Regions from separate parts of the Homo sapiens genome. Here regions 1 and 3 are each linked to region 2. Evidence: fine-mapped expression QTL. A gene starts in region 2. Each other region holds a variant in brackets. All regions are shown on one strand. Distances are between the middles of the regions. Region 1 overlaps HNMT (histamine N-methyltransferase). Region 2 holds the start of HNMT (histamine N-methyltransferase). Region 3 holds the start of LOC107985948 (a long non-coding RNA gene).

What was found.
Region 1: its variant is fine-mapped to the expression of HNMT in whole blood (INTERVAL, PIP above 0.99).
Region 3: its variant is fine-mapped to the expression of HNMT in whole blood (INTERVAL, PIP 0.93).

Annotation. Positions count from the first base shown.
Region 1 is chr2:137,998,204-138,006,393 of GRCh38, forward strand. It overlaps HNMT (histamine N-methyltransferase), which reads left to right. Exons shown (of 6, transcript NM_006895.3): 3 at 2,715-2,822; 4 at 3,861-3,991; 5 at 6,929-7,022. It overlaps LOC107985948 (a long non-coding RNA gene), which reads right to left. Exons shown (of 3, transcript XR_001739719.2): 3 at 7,643-8,190. Among named protein-coding and RNA genes, the nearest start is that of HNMT, 38 kb to the left of the region's middle. The variant A/G (reference allele first, on the strand shown) is at 4,040.
Region 2 is chr2:137,961,031-137,969,220 of GRCh38, forward strand. It overlaps HNMT (histamine N-methyltransferase), which reads left to right and starts at 3,443. Exons shown (of 6, transcript NM_006895.3): 1 at 3,443-3,598. The coding sequence starts at 3,462.
Region 3 is chr2:138,041,023-138,049,212 of GRCh38, forward strand. LOC107985948 (a long non-coding RNA gene) reads right to left here and starts at 2,716. Exons shown (of 3, transcript XR_001739719.2): 1 at 2,541-2,716. LOC105373636 (a long non-coding RNA gene) reads right to left here. Exons shown (of 3, transcript XR_923367.2): 3 at 4,458-5,788. The variant A/T (reference allele first, on the strand shown) is at 4,347.

The sequences.
Region 1 (8,190 bases), 37 kb after region 2:
ATGTAGGGTACTTTAGAGAATTAGTTGGAAAGAGTAGGTAAAATAATTAAAATTATTATAATTTTTGAAATTTGTATGCATTGAACAAATTTCTCATATTAGTAAATTTATGAAATGTTCTTTTTTAAAAACTACTTCCAAAACTAAAATTCTGCTAATGATATTTTATTAAAAATGAACAAGTTAGGACCAAAAAACGAAAGCAGATGGACACTAAGTCAACAGGTATAAAATGGAAATGTCCCTGACAAACAAGTATGGTCACCCTACTTATGAGGTCAGAAATAGATTTTACGTTCTAATTGACTCTTAAGGAAATAGTTGCATTATCACCTCTTCTTAAACTTAATTTATTTTTGTCAGGAATCCAGCACACATGAGCTTATACTCTAGAGGCTGTTATGCAAACCAATGGTTTCCATATGTCAATTGTGATTCTAGCATTGTGTCCTCTATCAGTGCCCCAGGGAGAGGGACTGCCTGGCTCTGAACATGTCCCAGACTGTGCTAGATATATTTTGCCAACCAGGCCAACCTGAAATGTCAAGGTCCATCTTTGGAGGAGAGCTCATCAAGCCCTGAGGGGATATAATTGCATTTCAGTTATCTTTTTCAAAATGTCGAATTTGAGATCCTCATAATTGATAATTTTTCATTTAAAATGTATGGCTAGGTTAATATGAGGCAAGAACAGAAAATTTTGGTCTCTAGTCTTTTGGGGGCAAGCTGGAATCTATTTCCCATTAGCCCACAGCTATTCTTACCAGCCTTTTGTCTTAGTTGTCTTTTTTTCCCTTCAGAATAGTTGCTGAACAGAAGAATAAAAGGCTTTTCATGTCTTTTTAGCATTTGTGATCTTTCTACTTCTTAGTTGAATGAGTTAGAAGAATAAACATTGTAGATTTAGACAAATGTGACTTAAACTTCAGGTATATCAATATCCCTTGAATGTCAACATACTCAAATCACCTAATCCAGTTGGGAATATTAATAATATCATGGAACTTGCTGTCAGGATTAATGAGATGTTCCAGGTAAAAAGCCTAGCACAGTGTTTGGCAAATAGTAGGTGGCCAATAATAAATGGCAGCTATAGTCATCAGTGAAGAAATACATGATTTCAAGTAGGTAGGGCTGGCTGTGAAGAAAATTGTCACATAAGTGACTTCATACTCTATTTCAGCTTCCTTCCCACTCTCCCTCCTTCCCTCCACACACACCATGTACGCCATCTCCTATTGTCAGTACTTGGGACTCTCATATGCACCTGGACCACTGTCTTTTCCCAGTCTAGCATCTTCTGTTCCTGGTTTATCTTCCTCATCTCTTTCCTTCCAGACCTCCCAGTCTTATGACCTCTGCTTTTGCTTCCTGCTATGTGCAGCCTTGGAAAGTTTCTGCTAATGTCATTTATGCCAAATGTTAAAGACTAACATCATTTTCCTATGCTAATCTTGCCAGGAGGTATTTCCATTTTAGTGAAGGTCAACATCATAACCTAACTGAATAAAAGTGCAAAACATAAGTTGGAGGCATCAGCAAGAGGGAGAGAAGAGATATTTTCAAATAGATGTACTCAAGATAACAATAAAAATAATGAACAGCTAACATTTATTCACTGCCAACTTTATTTTGCACTGTGCATTATATGCATTACTTCATTTAACCCTCACAACTAATAAATTAAGTACTATTATTATTTTTATTTTTCTAATAAAAAAAAAAAAGAAGCTTGGAGAGGTAAAGCAAATTGCCCAAAGTCGTATACACCGAGTAAGTGAAGAAGACAGGTTTAAAACTCAAGTCCATCTGACTTATTGTCATCTCTCTTACACTAACCCTTACAGGCTGAATTTTCACCAGGGCAGGGATTCTTGCTTGGAAGTCCTGCCTTGCTCAATATTCTAAGAAATCTAGACTGCTAGTAGTTCCAAATATACTCTTTTATTTTCTGTGTGTGCATCTGTCATCTTGTCCCCTGTACCTGCAATCCCTCACTTCCCCACAGTTTCTGGGCTAACTCCCACTTACCCTGGGAGTGACAGAGTTCATGAGTGATCTTCCCCCATGAAGCATCATCACTCTGGCATCATCTCTCGTCCTCTCCCCATATGTTCTCTTCCCTCTTCCTACCTTGATTCAACTGAGCCAGGGCTATTTCTGTGTCTGTGAACAGGTAATAGTGTTTATGAGGGCAGATATCTGACATGTTTTTCTTCTTTATTTTACCTGACATATGCTTGTACCCTTTATTTAATCTGACATTTTTTTGTACTCTTCTGGCCTAGCCTACTCTGCCAGTTCTGAGGTGCATTTTTTTTTCGTATTTTAATACCTCTGATATTGTTATGCTCTCCAGTTGATAAAAATCTTAAAATTTTAATTGACAGTGGCTTTTTTCTAACTTGGTGAAACAAAAATAAGGGTTAATTTCCTTCTACAATCAACAGCATCTTTGATTTGATGAAATATAGTGATAGATGTTAAAGATCATGTAAACGAATGGATGGCACTCACAGCCCTCCTTGAGTCACATTACTATGCCTACTTAGAACCTAGCTGCCCTGCATCATGGCAGGGCAGCAGTTGAACATTATTCTTTATTTATGTTAGGCTTTCCTAGTAAAGGTAGGGCAGATAATAAATCAGCTAAAATTGTTTTTAATCATTTCTTGCTGGAATGATGTGACCTGTCCCATATGTTTATCTTCTAGGTGAAATTGATCTTCAAATTCTCTCCAAAGTTCAGGCTCAATACCCAGGAGTTTGTATCAACAATGAAGTTGTTGAGCCAAGTGCTGAACAAATTGCCAAATACAAAGGTACCTGTAACTCCTGGTCCTCTACACCAGATCCTATCCCAAAAGACTTAACTCAAATTGTTCCCTTGAATGATTAAAAATATAGTTACTGTGGTATGCTTTTCACAAGCTTATTGGGAGAAGAACTGAATTAGTTCTTGGCAGGCATGACTAAACATCTCAAAATGTGAACAGTGAATAATAAACTCCCTTTTCTATTAACACTTCATCCATTCCCCAGTTGTCATCAATGATTACCTTTTGATGTTTATGCTTAAGTACAGATTCATTCATTGATCCAGAATTATTTAAACCAACCTTAAAGAGCTTATGTTTAGTGGGTTACAGTAAAAGTTCACAAACTTTTCCTGGCAAAGGCCAAATAGTAAATATTTTAGATTCAGAAGGTCAATTCAGTCTCTGCCATAACTAATCAACCTGCCATGTGCCACAAAGGCAGCCAAAAAGAAAAATAGGTAAACTAACAAGCATGGGTGTGTTTGAATAAAACTTTATTTGTAAACACTAAAATTTGAATTTCATATCATTTTCACATATGAATTAGCATCCTTCTTTTGTTTTTTTAAATCATTCAAAAATATAATGACGTGAAACATGAATGGCAGTGACACAAAGTCAGGAAGTAGAACGATATATGTTTTTAGCTTGCGGTTCATACAAAAATAAGTAGCAGGCTAGATATAGTCCCTGGACTGTAGTTTGTCTTCTCCTGAATTATACAAACATATCTGTTTCCAATTCACTTTCCATTGATAAAATTCACCAGTTGATTCTTCATTAATACTAAGACAATATAACCTATTCTGCCCAGGGTTCTTGTAATTATTTCTTCCTGACTCTTTCTTTCACCTCTAATTTCATTAAATACTAGAAACCAAAAAAAGCAGTATGAACTCTCTGGTCTCCCAGACATAAGAAAGAAAAACGTTCTTTCTATCTGTTTGTATATAACATTGATTGCATTAAAATTCTAAATGGAAATGGTTTCCACATTTGCAATTAAAATTGATGGTGTGTCACCTCTTCTCTGTATTTTAGAGCTTGTAGCCAAGACATCGAACCTCGAGAACGTAAAGTTTGCTTGGCATAAGGAGACATCATCTGAATACCAAAGTAGAATGTTGGAGAAAAAGGAGCTTCAAAAGTGGGACTTTATTCATATGATTCAAGTAAGAAATATGTATTATAATATATACTCAGAAAGAAGACTTTTCAGA[A/G]TATATATATAATGAATATCTACTATTCTAATTTTTAAAAGGTAAATGAAAATCTTCTGATTTCTAATTTTACAAGTGACCATGATCTGCCCAAATAAAAGGTAAAGATGTTTATTATACTAAGATTCTCTTTAACATTCCAAAAACCAGTTTTCTCTAATCAAAATACCTCTACAAGTTATCCATTTTTAAAAATGTTGGCTTAATTCTTATTTCTTTTTTGAGATGGGAGTCTCGCTGTGTCATCCAGGCTGGAGTGCGGTGGCATGATCTTAGCTCACTCTAGCCTCAAAATCCTGAGCTTAAGCAATTCTCCCACTGCAGCTTCCTGGTTAGTTGAGACCACAGGTGTGCACCACCACACCCAACTAATTTTTTATTTTTTGTAGAGATGGGGTCATACTATGTTGCCCAGGCTGGTCTTGAAATCCTGGGCTCAAGTGATCTTCCCTCTTCAACCTCCAAAAGTGTTGGAATTACAGGTGTGAGCCACTGCACCCAGTCTTTAATTTATTTTTATATCATTGGATGTTTATATAGAGATTTGAGAATGATAGCATCATAACATATTCTCTAGTGGCTCTAATGGTTTGGGTGGACCAATGTCCCAGAGTGTTTCTGTAGTGGACATATGGTCGAAGGGGCAGGTTAAATGATGCCTCAGTTCAATAAATTTTTACTTCCATTATCCAGATCCGACAAACTGACTCATACATGTTATAGAAAGGGAGTGACGCAAGAACAAAAAACCAAACACCGCATATTCTCACTCATAGGTGGGAATTGAACAATGAGAACACATGGACACAGGAAAGGGAACATCACACTCTGGGGTCTGTTGTGGGGTGGGGGGAGGGGGGAGGGATAGCATCGGGAGATATACCTAATGCTAGATGACGAGTTAGTGGGTGCAGCGCACCAGCATGGCACATGTATACATATGTAACTAACCTGCACATTGTGCACATGTACCCTAAAACTTAAAGTATAATAATAATAATAATAAAAGAAAGGGAGTGACTATTGAGTAGATAGCATGGGGCTGGATTTCCAGAGATAACTAACATTTCTGAATAGCATAAGGGATGTATGGGTTTTGGAAGTTGGTTACCAACGGGAAATGTACGTATTTTGGCAATACCACTTGATTAACGACAAAACACTATTTTTCTTCCTGGTCTACAATGATAATCACCCCAAAAGAATAAACTTACAAGAAGTCAAAGGAAGAAATACTCCAATTGTGTCATATACAGGCAATTCTATGTCTCTGCTTCTTTAGCTGATGAAATCTTTTGCCTGTCAGGTAGTACTTATCACTGTCCAGGATGCCAAGATATTTCTCTACCAGACTTGCTTTTGTTCCCACTTCCTCACATAACTATTTCATAACTCCCCTGTCTCCTTACCACTCCTGCAATCTCTCCCAGACCATTCGTTCTGAGCCAATGACCTCACTTCATAATGTATAGAGAAAATAGAAACTGCCAGATACTCATTTTTTACCCTCTAACTTTGCAAACATAACTGCATTTGTGCATCATCTCCTTCTTCCATCTTATTGCAAAAACCTCCTCTTATCAAAAACCACTCCCTCTGCTTAACCCTGGATCCCATTCTTTTCTCTGTTATAAATATTGTGATTTCAGGAATCAGCTTCTCTTTCCTATTTCTCTTAAAACTTCCATGTTTGTTCCTTCTTTCTTATAACAACTCTGTTTCCCTCTGAATCTCTATCCTGTTCCTCTCTCTCCATCTCTGTCTATGCCCCATTTTTCTGTGCAGCGTCTCTGCCTCTCTATTACTCATTATAGTCCTCACACTCTTATGATACTTTTACAACCTCACTGTCAATTCAGAAAATTTCACTGTCTTTGAGAAAAATTTAAGGTATCTTCTATGGCCCACTTCCACATTTCTAGCCAGGTCATATCGTAGATTGTTAGCCATCATATTGATTCACTATATTTGGGTACCTGCCTATGGTCCCTGTGGTGGAAAATGTGGAGTGTGGCCCCTAAGGCACCATGAGCCATGCACAGGTCAGGTCCATTTTATTTCATTCATTCATATGAAAGAGGCACAGCTAAAGTACTTTTCCTTTGTGCAATGAATTCTCTAAGGACAGGCTATATGGAATATTGAATTCTTGTCCAACAAAGATGAAGATGAGATATAAGAAGTGTCTATGGGGGTGGGGTCCAAAGATGCAAGCCATGGGGAAAAATTTCCCACGTCAATGCCTAAGTCCAAGTTCTGTGTTGGGTGGAAAGGCCTGTACTTCACTAGAGATTGATCCAGAATTATTAAAAATGGGTGTCCTGACCCCTAAACACCCTGTGACCAAGCAGATAACCTCATGCTTTATTTAGTCCAACTTCCTACAGAATCTGTCATCATCAGAGGCTGTCACATTTTCTGTGATTTTAAAAAAGCATCTGTGAGCATATGGAGAAGCTAGTGCAAAGGGCTTAATTGTAAAGTAACGTTCCATGAAATGGGGTCTGTTTTTATGGTGCCAGAACCATTTTCTCCCAGAAGAACTGCAATTCACGAATTATAGAATAGGCATAGGATTCATGTCCCCATGTGGAATGGTGACTAAGTGTCTCCAGCTATAAATGTCTGTGCTATGGAAGCCAGAAAGAGTAAATTTAAAACCATTTGACTCTAGTCGAACAAATACCATACTTTTCCATTTCCCCAAATATTTTCTCACATTATTGTTCTATGTCTTCATGCAACGTCTTTAATCTTTAAATTTCTTAAGTGTTTTCTTGGGTAAAAATTCACTCAACTAGAAAATCAAACTTTCTAGGAGTATCTAGCCCAAGCAATAAAGACTTCAACATACAGAAGCAGCTCATTTCTCTTTTTCCTCCTTTCTAGATGCTGTATTATGTAAAAGACATCCCAGCTACCCTGAAATTCTTCCATAGTCTCTTAGGTACCAATGCTAAGATGCTCATTATTGTTGTGTCAGGTAAGTTATTTTCATTCAGCCTGAATTTTAAAACAGCAATAATACACGTATGCATGGATTCCTGTGTTTGAAAGAAGCTTATATATTTTGTCTTCATTATGAAATTCTTGCCTTGGCCTCTAATCATAGCCAATTAATTTTCACAGTATTAGGGAAGTCATTCACAACAGTTCTCAATTTAGAAGGTATAGTGGAATTAAACATCTGTCTACTTCTTTCTTTTGGGAAAATATGTCTTTGTCTTCTATATATGAATCCTTTTTATATAGCTTAAATTCAACTGACAAAAGATTTTAAATGAGACTAAAAATAGTAAACATTTATTTTACCTACTTCGTGTCATTTGAGTGTTTCTTTTCCCTCTATGATGTTTATTAATAAATAAAGGTTAAACTATTTCAGATGTCATCATTTTTAATTGACTTGCATTCTTAGAGCCATGATCAACACTGCTTGCTATAGGTTTTTTCAAATGCCTATCAAAAACAGTTCATTTGTTTTGTTTTGTGTTGGTGTTTTATTTTCCAAGGAGGCATGTGAGCATGTCCAGTTGCTGCCAGGGATTTAGTAAGTATCACACAGAGAACCCAAGTAAACATTTTTAGATAATGAAACATTGACATTGTTGAGGACAGTATTTATTACTTCTTTCATTCAGCAATCTTTATGGATTTTCTACCAGTACTTACAGGTTGATTTTAGATACACAGCAGACTCTGTCTTCCTAAGGTTACACCAGACCCCATACTTTAACACCGTATGTCACAAAATTGACTTGTTCTTAAATATGAAGAATTGCTTTAAAGATGGCAAGCATGGTTATAGCTTGTAATCCTGGGTTTGACCTTATGTGAAAGTTTGGCAATAGAGAGCTCCTGTACACAACCTCTCCTGCAAGGGAACATTTAGATATACTATTTTTATCTCTATTTAGTTAAAAATACTCATTTATGTGGGAGAGGTCTCATTTCCCATTTAGAAGGGCTTATGGAAACTGGACTCATCCTACTAACCTCTCTCTGAGCTAGTAAAGCACTATAAACTGCATTTAGAATTGCAAAGTAAACTTAGTTATCAACATTGTAGGCAGCCTATTCTTGATTATATTCATCAATCATACAGAAAAAGTATTGTAGACGGAAATAACAATTCATTGAGAAGTCATGTA
Region 2 (8,190 bases):
TTAAATATAAAACCCAAAACTATAGAAACTCTGGAAGACAACCTAGGCAATACCATGCAGGACATACACATGGACAAAGATTTCATGACGAAGACACCAAAAGTAATTGCAACAAAAGCAAAAGTTGACAAATGAGATCTAATTACACTAAGGATCTTCTCCACAGCAAAAGAAACTATGAACAGAATAAATAACCTACAGAATGGGAGAAAATTTTTGCAAACTATGCACCTGACAAAGATCTAGTATCCATTATCTATAAGGAACTTAAACAAATTTACAAGAATAAAAAAAAGACATGAAAAAGTGGACAGAGGACATGAATAGACACTTTTCAAAAGAAGACATACATGCAGCCAACAATCATATAAAAAAAAGCTCAACATCACTGATCATTAGAGAAATGCAAATAAAAACTACAATGAGATACCATCTCACACCAGTCACAGTGGCTATTATGAAAAAGTAAAAAAATAACAGGTGCTGGCAAGGTTGTGGAGAAAAGGAAACACTTATACCCTGTTGGTCAGAGTGTAAATTAGTTCAACCATTGTGGAAGACAGTGTGGCGATTCCTCAAAGACCAAAAGACAGAAATCCCATTCAACCCAGCAATCCCATTACTGGGTACATACCCAAAGGAATATAAATTGTTCTGTTATAAAGACACATGCATGTAAATGTTTATTGCAGCACTATATGCAATAACAAAGACATGTAATCAACCTAAATGCTCATCAGTGATAGTCTGGACAAAGAAAATGTGACATATGTATATCATGGAATACTATGCAGCCATAAAAAATATGGGATCATGTCTTTTGTGGGGACAAGGATGGAACTGGAGGCCATTATCCTTAGCAAACTAATGCAGGAACAGAAAACCAAATACTGCATATTATCACTTATAAGTGGGAGCTAAATAATGAGAAAATATGGAAACATTAGATGGGAACAACACACACTGGGGCCTATTGAAGGTGGAGTGTGGGAAGAGGGAGAGAATCAGGAAAAATAACTAATGGGTACTAGGCTTAATACCTGGGTGGTGACATAATCTGTAAAACAAGCCCCAATAAAACATGTTTACCTATGTAACAAATCTGTGCATGTACTCTTGAACTTAATTTTTTTTTAAAAAAAAGCACAATAAGTGAAAAATAAAGAGAATCTCAAGTAAGGTGGAAACAGTGGAGACGGAAAGGAAGTCCTCACTGGGATCCACATGAAGAACTGGCTCTGTTGGAGAATATTTGACAGCAGGCAAGGGAGGTGATGGTCTCAGAAGACCAAGTTTCAGTTAAGGGAGGCCTTAACAGCAGCTTTCCAAGAGAAAGTCATGTCAGGAGTATTCCTCAGCAGAATAGCAAACAGAGACTCTTACTAAACTTTTATTCAATAGATGAATACATTATTGGCCATTTTTGGTTTTGGTTAAAGTGAAACAAAAACAGATAGATGTTACACATGAATGAATGAATGATTTGGGTTGAGCTCTAAAGAGAAAAATGGAAGATGGTAATAGAAGCAAAAGTTTGTCAGAGCCCATCTGAGGAAAGGGAAGGCTGGTTGGATAGAGATGTGAGTAAAGAACCAGCAAAGACCTTATCTAAGGATGAGTGAAGGGCACAGGAGCTAAATCAGGGCTTGGCCAAATAAGGCCTGTGGCCAAACCCAACCCTACCAACCTGATTTGTGCAGCCCATGAGCTACCAATAACTTTTATGTTTTTATATGGTTAAAGTAAATTCAAAGAAGGATAATATTTCATGACATGTGAAAATGATATGAAACTCAAATTTCAATGTCCGTGAATAAAGTGACGACTGTTTTTGTCATTTTATATATATATATTTTTTTTGCAGAGGGACTGGCTTGCACTTTTTAAACATTAGTTATATTATTCTCAGTACAACCCTATAAGATAAAATTCATTCCCATTTTACTGATGAGCAAACTGCAGCTTATGTTTCAGCCAAAGTCAGACAGTTCATTAAGGGCAGAGTCATCCATGGCAATCTGCCTGTCCAGATATTACACTTTCCCCCGGGGTAAAAGCACTGGCTCTAAGAATAGTGAGAACAAAACATACTTATAAAAGGGAGTTGGGGGCTGGGAATGGTGGCTCACGCCTGTAATCCCAGCACTTTGGGAGGCCGAGGCGGGTGGATCACTTGAGATCAGGAGTTCGAGATCAGCCTGGCCAACATGGTGAAACCCTGTCTCTACTAAAAGTACAAAAATTAGCCAGGCGTGGTGGCGGGTGCCTGTAATCCCAGTTATTCGGGAGGCTAAGACAGGAGAATCACTTGAGTCCAGGAAGCGGAGGTTGCAGTGAGTGGAGATCGCACCATTGCACTCCAGGCTGGGCGACAGAGCGATACTCTGTCTCAAAAAAAAAAAGAGAGTTGGGAAGTGTTTTGAATGCTTAGAGGGCAGCTTGGGAACTCAATTAGAAGAAGGGACGGTTTAAGCAGACATATTTCTAAGAGACTTATATGAGTTAACTCATTTGATCCTCAGCACTCCTCCATGAGTTGGATGCTATTATTAACAACCCAATATTAGATAAAGGATGACCTTCTTAAAGACCTCTTCCCAGGAAAAAGACTGTGTGTGGGTACTCTGAAGCTTTGGCTCTTCTGGTGGGGACACCACTGGGTTTCCAAAGGCTCATCCAGCCAAGCGAAGTATCTATGACCTCGTCGTGTTCAGCGCGCTTAGGGAAGGATTCTATGGACTGCACTTTTACCCTGGTGTCCTGCATTCTTGCTCCAAGACTTCTCTTACCACTCTCATTCCCCTAAATGCAGCTTCTGACACCTTCTAGCTACGAGTTCTTGGGCTCCTCCTTCGTGACTTCCTTTTAAGATAATTTCTGAGTTACAACAAATCAGCATTTGAAGAAATGCAGCAGATAAGTTGAAAATTCAAGTGCTGAGGAATGTAAAGGCCCAAAACAATCCCGTAGAAAGCACAGAGGCAGATGACAGTCTTCCGTTAAAGATTTCACTGCTGTAGATTTCTGAGAGTGCTGTGTAGCTGTCCTCTTTATCCTGGTGTTTGCCACTTCGAACAGTCACTTTCCCACTTGGAACTTACTTGTGGCTTTGCTGACAAAACAGGAAGTGATTTGAATACAGTTTGTTTTTATGACCTTTCAACCTCAGGAATTTGAAAAGTTTTAGCAGTGGATTTACAGCCTTGCTTAATACTTCTATTTCTTACAAAACAACCGTATAGGGGTTAAAGTATCAGTGCAAAGTCCCGTTCAAATATTGACTCAGTAATGAGCTCTACAAGCCAGCCTTTGTGGCATGTTAAATTCAAAACAAGCTTAGCATTTTTTTTTTTTTTTTTGGATAGAAACTGGTGGGGGTGGGGAAAGAAAGAGGGAACTGGGAAGAGAAGGAGGGGAACTTAAACCTTGCTTCCTGCTCTGTCTTTCTCAGAAAACCAAATATGGCATCTTCCATGAGGAGCTTGTTTTCTGACCACGGGAAATATGTTGAATCTTTCCGGAGGTTTCTCAACCATTCCACGGAACACCAGTGCATGCAGGAATTCATGGACAAGAAGCTGCCAGGCATAATAGGAAGGTAACAAAAGGGACGTTGTTGTCAAAGGGACAAGCCTCAGACTGGCTGTGCGTCAGTGATAGATGGGTCTCGCTCAGCCTCGCAGGCTGGGCACAGGGATAAGGGCGAATTACTGATAGCAGCTCCCCGTCGTCCCCTCCTCGCTGCCCTGCCCTGCCTTTCTCCTGCAGTGCTTTGGTTCCACGTTTGCTTTGAACACTCAAAGGCTCCCATTTGTGTTGTATTTCCAGCTGCATAGAGATAAGCGTTAACCATTTGAAGGCACAAATCCATGTTCATTTGGGAAAAGATAAGATGCTAATCTTCGAACTCAGATTTTTCAGCCCTCCTCCAAATTTTACATCCCAAAAAAGTCCCAAAGGGAGTCTGGTATGCTTTTCATTAGAATCAAATATAAATAATTGCCAAAGTACGATTTGCCCTGAGGATTGAGTGCCTCAGTTCTCATAATATCCATTTAAATTAATTTTCCTTATCCATTGTTATAGTTATCACTCTCTTCCTCAAAATTGTCTTTTTCTTTCAGCTTAATATTAGCAATGTGTTCCTTAAAAAAAGAACCATTTTCCCATTATCAGTGAAACTCACTGGTTCCTATCCTTCTTGCAGAGTTCTTTTTTTTGGGTGATTAATGTGTTCAATTTGTGCCAGAGCTGATAAGCATTATGAGAGTAACAGATTCCACATGCTAAAGATAATCAAATCACCTATCTGGGGGTGATTTGCTGTAACTCATTCTACTTCAGGAAATAATAATGGAAAACTGGGAAGAAATGACTATGGATCCAATTTGCAAACAGCAAAGGAAAGTGGTATTTTATCTTTTGCTGAATTTCTCTATTGCAGGCCTGAAATTCTTTCACCAGGGCAGTACCTATGTCTGACCAGAGCAGGCATTATTAGATGTACATAAAATTTTATTTCCTTTTCTATTTAACATGATTCAGATTTTAAATGTTAGCTTTCAAAAAATAGGATATTATATATTAAAAATTAATATGTAATAGGATAAGGATGCAAACATCAAAGCAAATAGCAAATATAGAGAACTTCTTACCTAGGAACTAATTATAGTTAACCTCTTTGGGTTTCTTTGCTCATTTCTAAAGTTAAAGGTAATGAGTTAATTTCTCAATTCTTTTTCAGTACTAAAAGTATTTGCTCATGTCTGTAGCTTACCAGATCCTTGGTTTTCTTCAGCCATACACAGTTTGGTTTGAAGAGGTACCGTGGATGGAGATAACATAATCGATGATGAATGACCCCTTCCTTATCTTCAAAGTTTAAATCTAACTGGAAATATTATAAAATCTGTGAAAGACTGAAGAATTTTTAAGGGCACACTGTTTGTCTTATAACAGTAGTATATAGTTAGGAATGATCAGATTCAGTGTCATTTATTTTTTTCCTGAAGGTAATGTTTGAAATAAGATTTAGCTGAAGGACTTTTAAAATTGTTACTTAGAGTTGTCTATAAGTTATGAAGTACCAAAATGTGATTAGGATACTCTTTGTGTATGTTAGGGCAGGGTTTGTTGAGTTTGTGGCTCACTGTGCTAATTGAGTGTGGAGCGAGCCTATTAAATTTTTATTAAAGCAAGACATGCCATATTTTAAAACATCAAATGGTTCTAAAGTGTGTGGGGACTATAACAAACCCCACCCACTCCATTCTTGATTCCCACTCTCCGGAAGCAACCACTTTCAGCACTTTGAAATCTTTTAGTTATTTATGGAATTTTCTTTCATAATTCAAAATAACATGTTATTGTTCTATTTCTTCATTTCGCTGTATTAAAATAGCTAAGTAAGCATGCATATTTCCCACCCTATCATGTCACTATATGTAGTCAAAATTTTGGTTAAATAATTTGAGTGTTTATGTTATTTTGCCTATGTACATATTCTTAATAATTGAGCAATATATTCGACTATGCTTATATTTCCTTTTACGTACAACTTTTTGTTCTCCCTAGAGTTGACTATTGCCTTGATTTTGGTTTCTTTTCTTAGTTCTCCATGTACCTATTACTATTTTGATCCCCAAGCAGATATATTAATCTCCTCTCAATATATGCAAACATATCAAGGAATCTGTTTATTTTACCCCAAGGGAACAACTTTTCTGAAGCCCTCTGTTCTTTTTTTCAGTTTAGGAAGATCTGCTTTGGCCTGCTATACAACTATTAAGGAGGGAATTTATTTCACTTTCTGAGAATCATTTTCTTTCTCCATTATTTGATTCCCTGATTCTATATCTCATGCCTTTCTTTTCTTTGTTTCCTCGGTCCTTTGTTTCCTGAACAATTCTTTAAGAACTTTAAGAGTGAACGAGAGGTAAACTTTTTGAGACTTTGTATGTTTAAAAATCCCTTGGTTCTATGTTAATCGTTTGACTGGATATAGAACTCTATACTGAAAATGGTTTTGTATAATAGATCTAAAGGTACTTTTCCACTGTCTTTTAGATACCAGAATTGCTGTTAACAAATAAAATACTGGCCAGATGTGTTGGTTCACGCCTGTAATCCTAGCACTTCGGGAGGCTGAGGCGGGAGGATTACTTGAGCCTAGGAGTTTGAGACCAGCCTGGGCAACATAGCAAGATCCCATCTCTACAAAAAAGTGAAAAAGTTAGCTGAACAAGGCGGCATGCACATGCTACTCCAGACGCTGAAGTGGGAAGATCACTTAAGTCCGAGAGATCGAGGCTTCAGTGAGATATGGCTGAGACACTGCTCTCAGCCTGGATGACAGAGTGAGAACCTGTCTCAAACAAGAGAAAAAAATAAATCAAATGCTACTCAAAATTCTCATCCTTGGCATGTGGAATAACTTTTACATTGCTATGTGTTTTGTTTTCCCTATTTTGAACTTTTTAGAATCTTCTTACGTCTAGTATTCTGAAATTTTAAAATACTGAGCTGTGAAATGGTTCCTTTTTACCCATTTTATGGGTACTCCCTGGGCTATTTCAATTGAGATTCAGATCCTTCAGTTATGCGGAACTTTGGTAATCATTCTTCACCACTGTTTTCTTTTTCTGGAACTTTTATTCATCAAATACTTCCTGGATTGATTACCTAATTTTCTTATATTTCCAGTTTGCTACAACTTTCCTCTTTCAGCCCATGTATTAACTTTTTACTATTATATTTTTAATTTCCAAGAATGTTTTCTATAGCATTCTTTTCATCATTCCCAGATGTAATACCTTCTTATTCATTACAAAATGTTCCTCTGCTCTCTCTGCCTCTTTCCATCTCTGTTTCTTATGTTAGACAGCTCCCCAACCACCTAAAGAGCCTTGGTTTTCTATTCAATCAAATAATGAGGCACTAAAAGGTAGTCAGATTCTCTTTGTGTAAGTCAGGGCAGGGTTTGTTGAGTGAGTAGCTCACTGAATAATTGAGTGTGGACTCAGCTCTTTCCTGGGAGATCCTCAGATATAAAATCATGTTAACTTTATCACTGAGATGATTTGTTTCCCTATAGAGGAATTCTTCAATCCCCTATTTGAGGGTAGATGGTGGGGCAGGGCTTGGGGGCAGGAAAAATTATAGTAAATAACTATAAATAGTAAAGTTGGTTATTGTTGTTGCATATAAAACATTTAAATCCTTGGCTAGAAAATAGTAAGTTTTCAATAATTATTTGATGTCATTATAATATGTGAAATGGGATGAATAATAGTATCTAACTCATAGAGGAATTTCAAGGATTCAAAGAGTTAATTCACATAAATCACTTACATGTACCTAGAATCATAATAATTGCTAATATATGTGGAGTGCTTGTCATGTGCAGATACATTTCTAAGAGATTTGCATGAATTAAATCATTGAATCCTCACAACTTCTCCATGAATTAGAAACAGTTATTAATAATCCTACAAGAGAGATGATATTATTATCTTATTTCACAGAGATGTCAAATAACTTGCTCAAGGTAACATAACAGTAACCTGGGATTTCAACTTGGGTGCTCTGCTTCATAGCCTCCCTATGCTGTCATAGATGTAAGCATTTTAAAGAATGAACAAAAGGTGTAGATAGAAATGGATGTGTTAGGACTCAGGATTATGAGTTGGAGGATAATTAGAATTGAAGAAGGCAAATCATTTATAGGTGTTCTCGACCCTAGACTTTGCAAGATTCCTTTAGAACCTTACTTCAATTTTTGTTCCCATCCTGTGACTGAGCAGGCTTTTTGCACTGTAGACAAAACACAGTTTTGTTTGCCATCCCAAAGTCCAAAGAAACAAACACCATCCTTTTCCCTTCATGGTTCTCCTACAGCAGTCATCTCTTTTCCTTCTCTCTTTCACCCTGTTTCAACAGACTCTAGATCTGCTTCCTCATTTTTGAGCTCAGTTTTAATCCCATTGCCATCTGACTTCAGTCTTCAATCTTCTTTTACAACTGCCATTACTAAAGACACTCGTATTGCCAAATTCGATGGAGATTTTTCCTTTTTTAAGTAGTACACTCTGCTGCTTTTGCCATGACGACGGGCTTTCTCTGCCTCCAATTACTCTGGTACCTCTCTGTGCTTTATTTCTTTTCTTCTCTGTCTTCTTTGTATATTCTTCA
Region 3 (8,190 bases), 80 kb after region 2:
CATTTGCTCCATAATTTAGTGAAACCTGCAGTAGCTTTTGGGCACATTGTCTCAGCTGAATGGAGCCGGTGTGGGGCCTTGGGTTCTGGAAGGCTGTATCTGGATGAATCGTCATAAATAGCACATTTGGAGATGAGCTGGTGATCTTCTGGGTTGGAGCCAGCAGCAAAGGAAGTGAGGCCACTGAGACACCAAACAGTTACCCAGGGAAGCTCTCAGAGGGTCTTTAAAGAGGGCCTGGCCTGTGCCTCTGGTCATACTCTCTGGGGACAATGGGTGGATGGGGCTGCAGCTTTCCCTATTACAAGATGTGCTAAGAAGGAAGGGAAACCTATCCTGAACACTGACAGCAGAAAATTAGGCAGTATTTTGCAGTCAAGAAGGGGTAACAGTAGAATCCATAATTTTTACAGTGACCATCCTAATCTCTGAGTCCCTCAGTTAAGGACTGGATTCAGTTCAATCTAGTGCTTCATGATTCATGCAGGTAACACATTATTTCTCCAGCAACTGCCAAGTGCTAGCCCCTGTTACAGACCAGAGACACAACAAGCAGATGACAAGCAGATAATTAGATGGTGTCAGGTGGTGAGAAGGAAGAGAATACATCAGGTTAAAGGGTATGGAGGTTAATGGAGTGGGCAGTTGTAGGAGTGGGGTGCACATATTGTCAGCGGAGACCTCATTTGTTAGGTACTATTTGGTAAGCTCAGATTTGACACACTCTTGTTGGTTATGTGCTCAGGGCTAAGTTCTAGGGGCTTTTACACTGTATGTCAGAGACTGTCTACAATGCATCACTCCATTGGCTAACTTAGTTGACTGTGTTGATCGGTTGGGGCCCCCTTTCTTTATTTGTGTCCTTCTGCAACAGCATGCAAAACAGGATTTTTTCCAGTTGTTCGCCCAGGGATTTTTAAATGCCATGTTTTATTGTTCCTTATGAGTTCAATGTATGTAAGCCCTGCCCGCCTAGTGAGAAAATAAGCTCTTTAATGTTGAGAACTCAGCCTTTTAGTTGTCTATTTCCCACCCAGCAGGAGTGCCTTTTTAATACAGGTTAACACAAACTTCAAACTGTAATATGATTTAAAAATTTATATTTTGGTACTTTATGCTTTGAAAAATTGGCCTGTGTATCATCCCAATAAACCTGTGTGGTGAATAATATCTATAACATCCAACTGTGTGGTATTGGTCAAATTCATTCATTCATTTATTCATCCATTTAACAAATATGATTTCAGTTGCATGATTAATTTCCTTGGAATTCAACTTTCTCATTTAAAATTTAGGGACATTAATGCTTGTTTTGCATAATGTGAAAATGATACAGTAAATAGGTTAAATAACTACCACAATGTACATAATAGGTGCTCAATAAATAAGAGCTATTTATGAGTTCAAGCATGTGTAGGATGATGAGTGGGAGCAGGAGATATGAGACGTCATGCAAAAGAAATAGCTAGAGGCCAGATCGTGATGGACTTAAAAACCTAATTGCAATGCGGGTCACTTGAAGTATTTTAAGCAAGGAAGTGGCATGATCATATGATTATACTGGTGACTGCATAGAGAACAGATTAAAAGAAGACAAAAGCAGAAGCAGAAACACCATTTAGATGGGTGTTGCAGTGGTTCAGGTAGGGAATGATGGTGGTTTGGCTGTGATAAAGGAGATGAAGAGAAGTCAGCGGACACAGAAGGTATGGTTCAACAGTGGAATGGACAGGACTTGCTAGTGAATTGAATCTGAGAAGTAAGGGAAAGGGAAGAGACTCCCAGCTTTCCAAGTTAAGCAATCAAATGTTTTCTGAGGGAAGTAACACTCAAGGACAAATAGGTTTGCCACTTAGTTTCCACACATCACACCTAGATTCCTAATGACAGCATCCGCCTAAAGCTCAGAAGATAATGCTGAGTGAGAAAATAGATTTCCTGACTTTAATATCCCATGGTATTTAAAGCCATGGGAGGCGATGAGATCACCTGGAGAGAAACTGAAGTGTGAGAAGAGAGGAGGACTCTGGTGAGATCTCTGAAGAACTGCACAGCTTCAGGTTTGCATAAAGGAGGAGAAAGTGAGGATTGGCCAGCGGCACAGAAGAAAAATCACAGATGTTAGGAAGAGAGAGTGATTCAAAAGGAGGGTCATTTTTTATTCTGTCAAAACCATCTGAGAGGTAAAGTTAGTTGAGGGTTTAGCAGAACAGAGGTCATTGAAGACCCTGATAAGAGAAAATTCAGAAGACAAGAGGAAAAACCAGTTTGGAATAAATTTGAGAATAAAGGGGAAATAATAAAGTGGAGCTATTTTTCAGGAAAGAATTATTGAGACCTACTACATTCCAGGCACTGCTACAGATGCTGGGACTGAGCAGTCAATTGACAGTGTCTCAAGTTACTTCTGTTGTAGAGGGAAGAAAGACAATAGACATACAAATAAATATGTGATATGTCAGCTGGAAAGAATAATGCAGCATTAAGCCAGACTTAAAGGGACTTAAAGGAGTGCTGAGTGGATATGGTTGTTGTCTTACCTAGGGAGGTCAGAGAAGTTGGCTAGGGAAGTCCTCTCTCATGATGAGGTGTCGGAGCACAGACCTATAGAAAATGAGAGAGAGCATGCCCCATGAAAGTATCTGTGAAGACAATAGCAAAGACTTGGAACCAACTCAAATGTTCATCAATGATAGACTGGATTAAGAAAATGTGGCACATGTACACCATGGAATACTATGCAGCCATAAAAAAGGATGCGCTCATGTCCTTTGCAGAGACATGGATGAAGCTGGAAACTATCATTCTGAGCAAACTATCGCAAGGACAGAAAACCAAACACCACATTTTCTCACTCCTAGGTGGAAACTGAACAATGAGAACACTTGGACACAAGGCGGGGAACATCACACACTGGGGCCTGTCGGCGGGTGGGGGATGGGAGAGGGATAGCATTGGGAGAAATACCTAATGTAAATGACGAGTTGATGGGTGCAGCAAACCAACATGGCACATGTATACATATGTAACAAACCTGCACGTTGTGCATGTTTACCCTAGAACTTAAAGTATATATATATATAAAAATCTGGGAAGAGTACATTCCAGGCAGAAGAGGCAGTACATACAAGAGACCTGAAGTGGCTTCATGAATAGCATTGATAAGAAACAACAATGAACACCCAGTGTGGCTTGAGTAGAATGCATGAAGTAAAAAGGGGTAGTAGGTGAGGTCAGCGTGGTGAAAGGGGGTGGTAGAGTAGACCATGTCTGGCTTTAGAAATCTTTTTTCAAAGACAGTCTTTCCCTCTAAGTTGCAAGGTAATTAGTAGGTTTTCATCAGAAGCTGCTGCAAGGTGGACCAGGTAGAAGCAGAGAGAGCCATTGGGGACTATCGTTGTCATCCAGGTAAGAGATAATAGCAGCTTGCACCAGATGGTAGTAGTCAAATGGTGAGAAAAAATCAAAATCTGAAAATATTTTAAAGCTAAAGGTAGTGTAATTTACTAATAAACTGGATGTTAAGTATGAGTGATGGAAAAAGTCAAGGATGACTACATAAATGATTTAGGAAGTTGACCGTGAAGAAGGGTTCAAAATAGTAGACAATGGCTGGAAGGGACAGGGAACAAGGTGAGCAGTTTAAGAATGTGTTTGCCTGCAAATGAGAAGAATCCTGTATTAGTCAGCTAAGCCTGCTGTAACATAATACCACAGGCAGGGTGGTTTAAGAACAGAAATGTGGCCGGGTGTGGTGGCTCATGCCTGTAATCCCAGCAGTTTGGGAGGCCAAGGTGAGTGGATCACAAGGTTAGGAGTTCAAGACCAGTCTGGCCAAGATGATGAAACCGCATCTCTACTAAAAATACAAAAATTAGCCAGGCATGGTGGCAGGCGCCTGTAATCCCAGCTATTTGAGAGGCTGAGGCAGGAGAATCACTTGAACACAGGGGGCAGAGGTTGCAGTGAGCTGAGATCGCATCACTGCACTCCAGCCTGGGTGACAGAGTGAGACTCCATCTCAAAACAAACAAACAAACAAACAAAAAAACAAGAAATTTGTTTTCTAACAGTTCTGGAGCCTGCAAGTTCAAGACCAAGATGGCAGCAGGGTAGGTTTCCTCTGAGGCCTCTCTCCTTGGCATCCAGGTGGCTGTCCTCTTGCTGTCTTTTCACATGGTCGTCCCTCTGTGCACGCACATCCCTGGTGTGTCTGTGTGCTGAATCTCCTCTTCTTCTAAAAACACCAGTCTTATTGGAATAAGGCACATCCTAATGCTGTCATTTTAACTTAATAACCTCTTTAAAGGCCCTATATCCAAATGCAGTCACATTCTAACAGTAAG[A/T]CACTGTGAGTTAGAGCTTTAACACATGGATTTTGGGGAAAACATTATAAAATGTGTATCAATGTGATTTTGACTTAGTAGCCATAGAAGAAGATGAGGAATGACATGAAAGTGAACCACTCTCCCTCTTTTCAGACTGAAATATCATCTAAGATCAGGATTTGCAGTGACCCACGTGGCAGTCAAGGGAGAGAGTGTCTTGCAGCAAGGCTTTTGGATTGTTCTTGGACATAAATGGTGAATTATACAAAGAGGAGTTTTTGGAAATATTTGCAGGTTTGGTATGGAGGCCACATGTCCTTTTAAGGAATCAGGTTCTAGAAATTGAAACCTACAGATTTTGAACTTGCCACTTGTACCACACACATTTTTCTAAACCTAGTCTCAGATTGAGAAAGAGAGACAGAAAGAGAGATCAGGAAATAAATATAATAAAAAGTGAATGAAAGTGCAATTTTGACCTAAGGACCTTAAGCAGAAAAACAGGTTACTCAGCTACTCCTTTTTTAAATAACGAAAATGAAATGAGAGAAAGTAGATGGTCATTATTATTACTATTATCACAGCTGTCATTCCCTCATTGATGCCTCGTTAAGATGGATTTTAGTAGATCACAATCTAATATACTACTATATTGAAGACACTTTTTTAAAAAAGCAAAAATAAATCAATAAAATGTTAAAAGACCACTGATGAAATCATGGAGTGGATTAATTAGGGTGTAATATTCAGATCATATTCTTGAGTTGGGCATTTTTTAAAATGTTGTTTTTCCTGTATTCATGTTTCTAGGGCGTTGGCTCTGACTTTAATCTGTCAGGATTCAAACCCTAACAGATCCTCATTCGAACATTTACCATGTGACTCAGGACAAGTTATTAACCTAAATTCCAATTTCCTCACCTATAAAATGGGAATAATGAGAACACTGATCCCAGAGAGCCACTATGGTGATTCCATGAGCGATGTGGGTGAAGTGCTGGGTATGGTGTTTGGCATAGAGCGAGTGCTAAATAAATAGTTTTAAACAACTGCTAGTGAAGGAGAGAAAAAGAGAACCTGAGTCATTAAGGTGATGTGTGAGTAGGATGCAAGCCAGGACAGAAGGTTACAGGGCCATATGTGGGTACAAATGGCCATGCTGAAGTAGGGACTCTGATATATTCCTCATTCTTACTCGGGGCAGTGATGAAAAAGGGAGAGCCTTGTTCAAAAAGCTGGACAACAGTGTCATTACAGGGGAAAGCATTTACCTTTTTTCCATGTACATCCTTTGTTCAACCACATGCTTCAAGGTTGCACATTCAAAACATACCTTCAAAGATTACAGCTTTTAGAGTTTCAAGACAGCAACAGATGAGCATTCAACCATGTGGGGGTTCTTCATAGGCCCTGTTTTCCTTGTTCTACTGTAATCCATAAATGGTTGGAAATGCAGACCACTGAAGAGAATTAATTAGGACTTTTCAGATTTAATGGGAACAATTCAAAGAGTCTAAGTTTCTTTTCCATCCAGCGTGAGTTTCCTATTTAGTGAAGTAAAGCTCAACTTTTATCAATAGTTTCATTCTCTTGTGGTATGTAAAACCTACACACACTCAGAGGCACCCAGAGGAAACTACACTCTGAGTTATTAGTAAATTCTCTCCAAGTGAAGCTGCCAAACACAGAAGCTTAAAACTAGATACAGCTTCTCAGGAAGCAGATCAAGCCCAGACTCTGCCACTGAGATTGAATTAACAGGAGCTCACAGGGCTCTCTTGGATAAGCCACATGGACCCAGGGTTGTTAATTTGGGAGGTTTATTAAATAGCGGATTAGGATTGAAAGCGAATGCATCAAAATGTAAGAAGCCCTAGTTTGTTGAAATGAGAAAATTGATACTGAATGAGGTTATCTCTTGAATCTGGGCAGTCTTGTTTTGGCTACCCCACTGCTCAACTCCTAATTAGTAGGGCAGAAAAAACAAGTCCACGTAGGCTAAATGGCCAAGAATAGATGAAAATCAGCTAATAATATAGTAATTAGGAACAAAGCCAAAGCAGGACCTGCAGATGCCCAAAGTTGAAGAGATGCAAAGAAAAGTGTTGCTATCCAAAAAAAAAAAAAAAAAAAAAAAGTACTTGTCAGAACAAGTTTTTCAACAGCATATACTTTTAGACTAAGATTGAGGATGAAGGTGACAGGAAAATGATTAGCCCCATAGTTAGGATTACTTATATTTAGAAAAATATTTGCAAAGCTTTCCTTCTCCTTTCATATCATAGCGAACACTGAAATTGTGTTGTTTTCCAACATAGCTGCTAATATTTGCAAAGTAATAATTTTGCAAAGGAAACAGCTTGAAATAAAGCATGCCTGATGCTTAGGAAGAAAGCAAAGAATGCTATCTTTGAGTAGTTACTATAGGTAGCTTTTGATCAGAACGAAGTGGCACAGAAACATCCGATTCCAGTCTCACTGGTGCTGTTTACTCCATGTGACCATTATCAGGTCTCACTTCTGCACTGGCTTTAGGATACTTCTACATCATATGAAAGTGCTGTACAATTTCCAAGTTCCTTCTAAGTCAAACATTCTGTTATTCTTCCCTCCAAAAGATCCTTCAAGACAATGGAAGACTAAATAGCAACTAGAACTTGCTTTGAAGTAAGGCTGACATTATCTGCAAACAGATTAAATCACTATGCTTATATTTTATACTGTTATGTATTTTCCCATTGCAGCTTCACAGTCTTCCCCAGACCTTATCTGTGTATATAGGCACACATGCATAACTGCCTTAACAGTAAAAACATGGTCAAAAATGTAAAAGTTCAGGATGCAAGTTTGATGACACACTTTATTTCTCCAAATTGAAATAAAACTAGATCAATCCCCTGGAAGAAGTTTAGAAAAGTGTTAGCCATCCTCTTCCCCTTTGATTTCCATGTCCAAAGATGGAGAAGCTGCCTTTCTAATCCTTCTGTTTCAGTTTCTTTAGCCAATGGGATTTTATTACCAAAAAATGTCACTGAAGAATCTGGCTGATAATGTCCAGCACTGCAGTTTTTCACTAGACCAATAATATAGTTTGGCTGTGTCCTCACCCAAATCTCATCTTGAACTGTAACTCCCATAATCCCTACATGTCCTGGGAGGGACCTGGTGGGAGGTCATTGAATCATGGGGGCAGGTTTTTCTCATGCTATTGTCATGATAGTGAATAAGTCTCATGAGATCTGATGGTTTTATAAAGGGGAGTTCCCCTACACAAGCTCTCTTGCCTGCCACCACATAGGAAGTGACTTTGCTCCTCATTTGTCTTCAGCTATGATTGTGAGGCCTCCCCAGCCATGTGGAACTGTGAGTCAATTAAACCTCTTTCCTTTATAAATTACCCAGTCTCAGGTATGTCTTTATCAGCAGCATGAGAACAGACTAATACCACCAGCATCCATCAGTGATCTTTCAAGGGAAGAACAGATTGGAAGTGCTTTTTGGTGCTGCATTCAACTCAAGTGTAGCCTACACCTAAGAAGTTTGCAATGTGGTTCCAGAAACCCTTTATAAAAATAAATAAGTTAGATGGTGCAATAACTCTGTATTCCATTAAAATCCTTTAACCTCTCTATGCTTAATTAACAAAGGGCAGGAGTATGAGACAAAATAATAATCACTATTTAGCTCAAGCCAACACATATTTGCTGAAATTCTGCTCCATATAAGCAACTTATTTTTGTTTGGGGAATACAAAGATGAAACCAACTCTGACTTCTACAGAGAAGGAAGGCTGCAATGGAGATGATGACAGTGTGAAACTGTTATTGGTGCAATAAGTGGAAAACCAAGCATCATGGTGTTG